Regions from separate parts of the Homo sapiens genome. Here region 1 is linked to region 2. The links come from fine-mapping of genetic effects on gene expression. A gene starts in region 2. The other region holds a variant in brackets. All regions are shown on one strand. Distances are from middle to middle. Region 1 overlaps WDR86 (WD repeat domain 86). Region 2 holds the start of WDR86 (WD repeat domain 86).

Evidence for each region.
Region 1: its variant is fine-mapped to the expression of WDR86 in whole blood (INTERVAL, PIP 0.97).

Annotation. Positions count from the first base shown.
Region 1 is chr7:151,381,133-151,384,132 of GRCh38, reverse strand. WDR86 (WD repeat domain 86) reads left to right here. Exons shown (of 6, transcript NM_198285.3): 5 at 2,152-2,255; 6 at 2,387-3,000. The coding sequence ends at 2,551. Among named protein-coding and RNA genes, the nearest start is that of WDR86-AS1, 27 kb to the left of the region's middle. RefSeq lists silencers at 2,347-2,586, 2,607-2,766. The variant G/A (reference allele first, on the strand shown) is at 1,698.
Region 2 is chr7:151,408,859-151,411,588 of GRCh38, reverse strand. It overlaps WDR86 (WD repeat domain 86), which reads left to right and starts at 1,551. Exons shown (of 6, transcript NM_198285.3): 1 at 1,551-2,162. The coding sequence starts at 2,000. WDR86-AS1 (WDR86 antisense RNA 1) reads right to left here and starts at 2,428. Exons shown (of 6, transcript NR_109857.1): 1 at 2,207-2,428; 2 at 277-361. RefSeq lists an enhancer at 353-985.

The DNA of each region.
Region 1 (3,000 bases), 28 kb after region 2:
TGACCTCACAGCAAAGGTGTTGGATGAAGACAGAATGTAGATATCTGAAAATAGATCCTGACATGCCCTCAGGATTCAGGTGTCTGACACAGAAAAATTATTTTTCGTTTGTTCCTGTGTCCAAGGCTGGAAGTGTGGTTACGGCTCTGTTCCCAAGTCTGGGTCCTCTAATTGAACACGAGGAAGGTTCCACTCTCAAAGGCTCTGGCCGGCGGCCGCCTAGAACACCTCCCCGTGCAGCCGGGGCATGGAGCCCGCAGGGAAAGCGAAGCCTGCAGCTCACTGTTGCCCAGCTCGGTTCTTGGTCTTGGCCAGCAAGGCTATGGGATGATCAGACTTTGTTTTTGATCCTCTTCCCACCCGCGGGGAGCTCAGCAGCCACACTGGGTTTTCCAGGCCATGTCCATTTGTCTGAGTTTGTGGGGGGAAGGCAGAAAGGGGCTGAAAAGAGACCCAGAAATGAAACTTCCCCTCTGGGGCCATTCACTCTGTAGTTTTAACAAAAAGGCTGGAACAGGCTGGGCACCGTGGCTCATGCCTGTAATCCCAGCACTTTGGGAAGCCAAGGCGGGAGGATCTCTTGAGCTCAGTAGTTCAAGACCAGCCTGAGCAACATAGCAAGACCCTGTCTCTACAAACATTTTTTTTTTTTTTTTTTTGAGACGGAGTCTTGCTCTGTGGCCCAGGCTGGAGTGAAATGGCGCAGTCTAGGCTCACTGCCACCTCCACTTCCCAGATTCAAGTGATTCTCCTGCCTCAGCCTCCTAAGTAACTGGGACTACAGGTGTGTGCCACCACACCCAGCTAATTTTTGTATTTTTAGTAGAGACAGGGTTTCACCATGTTGGCCAGGCTGGTCTCAAACCCCTGATCTCATGATCTGCTCTGCCAGCTTCAGCTTCCCAAAGTGCTGAGATTACAGGCGTGAGCCACTGTGCCCAGCTCCCCCCCCCCACCCCGCCGCCCCGTTTTTTTTAAAATTAGCTGGGTGTAGTGGTGCATGCCTGTGGTCCCAGCTGCTCAGGAGGCTGAAGCGGGAGGATCGTTTGAGCCCAGGAGTTCAAGGTTAACAGTGAGCTAAGATGGTACCACTGCACTCCAGCCTCGGCAACAGAGTGAGACCCTGTCTCCCTGTAAGAAAAAAAAAAAAAAAGGCTGGGGAACAAGTACCCACAGAGCACCCTCAGATAGATAGGTAGCCCAGCACCCTTACCCTCAGGTGGTCCTACCCCTTTTCCCCAAGGTCCCTGGCAGGCTTGCACCATAGCTGCCCACCGTAGTTACCTGCTCATTGACAGACCCCACAGGACTTCCTCCCTCCCTTTCCATCTCCCATTTCCCTGTGAGCGTTTCCTGGGACGCCTGCCAGGTGAACTGTCTGCATCAAGTCCTAGCATCAGGGTCGGCTTCGGAGAGCCCAGCCTAGGCCAAGTGAGTTCTTCTAGTCCACATCCTCAGTGTGGCCTCCTGACTAGCAGCAGCATCACTTAAAACTGGTTAGAAATGCCGATTCTCAGGCCCCGCCTGCTAAATCAGATTCTGGGATGCGGCCCCGCGATCTGTGGCTAAGACCTCCAAGTGACGGATGCAAATGCAGGTTGCAGTTGGAAAACGATTGGACTGAAATCTTAGGAGAAACCCCAGGGAGAGGCAGCCACCTGGGGGAGGAGACAGACTGAGGTCGGAGGCTCGCCCCC[G/A]CTAGGGGTCCCGGGGGTGCGTGATCATGAACCCCAGAGGGCTGGGCTTTGATTTGAGTGCCGATCCGTTAATGAGGACGGGAGGATAAGGTTGCCGACGCAGCGGAAGGTAGGGGGGAAGCGACTCGAGGACCTGACGATTATCCCCAGGCAGGGGCTTCCCAAGCAGGCACGGAAACCAACTTCACCAAACCGCGGAGTGGGGACTGGGCCCGGGCGGTGTTCAGCAGGGCAGGGGCAGGGCCAGCTGGCGCGCAGGCATCTGCAGGGTGGAGCAGAATAACCGTGGGGACCCGTTTCTCTGGAGGGGCACTGTCCACTTCCCATATGAGCCTCAGGATACCCCCGTGGGGCGGAGTCTCGGAGACGCCCCAGGTCACGCTCTCGCCGCCCCATCCCTGCTTGCGGGGGGCCGAGCAGGGAGGGAGGCCCAGCGCGCGCTGTGTGTCCGCAGTGTTCACGGGCAGCGGGGACGCTTGCGCCCGGGCCTTCGACGCGCAGTCTGGAGAGCTGCGGAGGGTGTTCCGGGGCCACACATTCATCATCAACTGCATCCAGGTAGGTCCCTCTGCCCTTCTCGGGGCCGCCGCCCGTGGGAGGGAAGGTGCCCCGCCCCGATCCATCCACGCGGGCAGCGGTGTCCCCCCCGCCTACCGCGTCACCGGTGACGCCCGCCCCTGCGCCCGCAGGTGCACGGCCAGGTGCTCTACACCGCCTCGCACGACGGCGCCCTGCGCCTCTGGGACGTGCGCGGGCTCCGAGGTGCCCCGCGGCCCCCTCCGCCCATGCGCAGCCTCTCGCGGCTCTTCAGCAACAAGGTGGGCTGCGCCGCCGCGCCCCTGCAGCCGGCCTGATCCCGCGGGGCCCCTGCAGACGCCAGCCCAGACACCCAGCGGCTCCCAGAGCGCCCCGCCCTGCTACCCGCGGTGGTGGCGCCCGATGGCCGGCGAGGGGCGAGGAGCGAGGAAGCCCGGGCGGGAGGAGAGCCCGTCGCAGGCGTCTGGTTTTTCTTTGGTGGCCAGGAGGCGCTGGGAGCGGGAGTGCTCGCCCTGGGGACCGCCCCCTTTTCCCTTTTAGGGTGGCTCCTGTCCTCCCTCCCCATCCCTGACCTGGCGAAAGGCCTAGTCCTGGGGACCCTCCCACCTCAGGGGCTGCAGGCGGACTGCCCCAGCTCCCCCAGCCCCACGAAACTGGGCCTTTCCTGCTGAGAGGAAGTGACTTTTTACAGAAGCCACTGAACCTGGTTATTTTGGCAAATCGTCCGTCTCGAGGGCCTTGGGGGGAACTGAAATATACAGCCTGA
Region 2 (2,730 bases):
TCCTGGTGGTTCTTTCCTCTGGCCCACGACCAGGCAAGCTCGCCCAACCTACGATCTGTCCCCAGCTCCCAAACTGCTTTCAAACCCCTCCCCTCTTAGTTTCCAAAAGAGTCGATGCCTGGTTCTCCTTGGCCCCTCTGCCCAGAAAGTTTGGGTTTCCTCTGGCACTTCTCCGGATAAACCCTCCCAGCCTCCATGGTCCTCACATTCACCTTCCCCAAGGGCTGCAGCCGCAGGGCCTGCCCAAGATCCCCACTATACCGAGTCTGTCCTCACCTGGAGGCCACACCGCAGTTTCACACCTGGATGTGCAATGGGCCCCCTGAGGTTCACCGGTTCCTAAGAGGAACTGGTGATCAGCCTGTAGGGGACAAAACAGTCTACCCAGCCTCTCAGCACAAGACAGGCTCCCCGGCCTCTCCCGCCTCGCAGGCATCCAAATGCTGAAGCCTCCACCTCCTGAAAACGTCTCTCCTTTCGGCCTCCCTCTCTCCGGCTGGATGACCCCAAATCTCGTCCTAACGCTCCTCCACTGCCCCTCTCTCCACCACCTGCTAAGGAAGGGCCACGCTCCTTAAGCTGAGGCGCCAGCTGCTTTACAAGTTTTGAGGGAAAAGAACGGATTTCTCTGGTTAGGCCACTCTGGGTATAAACGACCCAACGGCCTGGGACACCCCACGATGGGGTTTTCTTTTGGAGTCTGGATAGAGCAGAGCGTGCAGTACTGGTCGTCCCATTGCGGGCTAGCTCGCCAAAGACGCCCCTTCCTTGCCCTTCTCCCTAGGCTCCTGAGAGAGCCCTGGAGCGTTCTGGAAATCCTGCTACCTTTAGGACCTGGGGGATCCGAGTAGGGGGGTCACCTTCCCCGTCCCCAGCGAAGTCGGCGCCGGAACTGCCCTAATGGAAACCAGCCGCCGGGCGCTCCGGGAGGGCTCAGGCCGACCCCGGGGTCCATTAGAGGCGCCCCAGGCCGAGGGAGCCCGCGGCGGCTGGAAGGTGAACTTGACATCCCGGCTCCACCGACCCCGCAGCGGCTCGCACCTCATCCCCACTCCGGCCAGACCAAAGTAGAATCCTGGGTGTGCGCGTGATTTCCCAGGGAGGGCGGACTCGGGGCTTTCCCTGTCGCACCCTCCATTGGGGGACCGCCCCCAAGTCCCCGAGAGCCCCTCGGGCAGAGTCCTTAGGGCTCAGAGCATGGGAGGACCTGGCTTGCCTGGTGGAGGCGAGTAGCCGAGGGGTCGGTGGAGCTGCGCCCCAAATGAGTTCCCGGCGCGCGATTCTCCCCGACCCCGACCCTTTGTCCGCCTCCCCCTCCCTCGTCCCGGCCCTTGGCTCAGGGGACCCAGGCGGCGGCGGCGGAGGTGGCAGAGGCCAGAGCCCAGAGGCGCAGCCCGGGCAGCTAGGAGGGTCGCACGTGGAGCCGTCCCCCGGACCCGCACAGCGACGAAGGGGGGAGGCTGCAGGCGCGCGGGGTGGGGGCTGGGGCGCAGCCCGAGAAGTGGGAGGGGATCGGGTGAGGGGTGGTCTCTGAGGAGGAGCCAGGCTGGACCGTATTGTTCCGCGCTCGGCCGGGGAGGGCGCGGGGCGCTCGGCTTCCCGTGTTCCTCTCCCCGCCCCAGCCCCGTGGGCGCGAGAGGAGGCGGGGGGCTCCTTGTGCACCAGAGACGCAGCTGCCTTGTTCGCCCGGTGGGGTGTGGATCCTCCGAGCGGTGCTGGGAAGGGGGTTCTCTCTGCCCGCGCGCCCAGGACTCTACCCAGGGCGGAGGTCCCGAGTGGGCCGCCCCCCGCAGCGCCCTGGGTTCGCGGGCCCAGAGGCTGGAGGCAGCGGGGAGCTAGGGTCCTTCACCCTCCCCTCGCCGCGTGCCTCCGCAGGAGTCGGGCTCCCCGTTCCCCGCGATGGCCGCGGGCCGCAGTCGTACGGAGCCGCCGCGCGGACCCCGGGGCGCCCCTCCCTAGCGGGGCGCAGCTCCTTCTTGTTCCCCGCCCTGCCAGCGGGATGGGGGGCGGCGGGTCGGCCCTGAGGGTCTGCGCCGACCACCGCGGGGGCATCAACTGGCTGAGCCTGAGCCCCGACGGGCAGCGCCTGCTGACGGGCAGCGAGGACGGCACGGCCCGGCTCTGGAGCACCGCGGACGGCCAGTGCTGCGCGCTCCTGCAAGGTAGACCCTCCCACTCCCTCCCTGACCTCTTCGCCGCAGCTCACCGGCCCCAGACCGCGGACCCCAGCTCCTGCGCCCGCAGACCCCTTTCTAGAAGTCCAGCCCCCGCTCATCCCGGCACACTAGCGGAAGAGCGCTTGTCTGGGCCCAGCATCTGGCTGTTGAGCGCACGGCAGGGCAGGGTGAGGTCTGGGGGTGGGGTGCGGGTGCAGAGCAGGGTGCGGCCGGGATCGGGTGGGTGGGTCGAGGGGCGTCCGCTACAAAGGCGAAGATCATTTGTCAACCAGCGGCAGGAAATCTCCCTTGACAACAATGTTAACAAACAAAAAGTTGCACCTATACTCCTTCTAAGCAAACCTTCCCTTGTCTCTAGGTGCCTTGTGGCCTCTTTGTGGCCAATTGTGCTCTTCTGCTGGCATTTCCTGTTGACGACTCTCACAGCAACAGTAGACGCTTGTTAAGGGCCAGCGGTGCGGAGAAGTGTGCCGTCGTCACACTATGTTACCCCACATACAGACGTGGAAACAGGCTGGGAGTTAAGTAATTCGCCCAGGTCGCACAGCCAGTG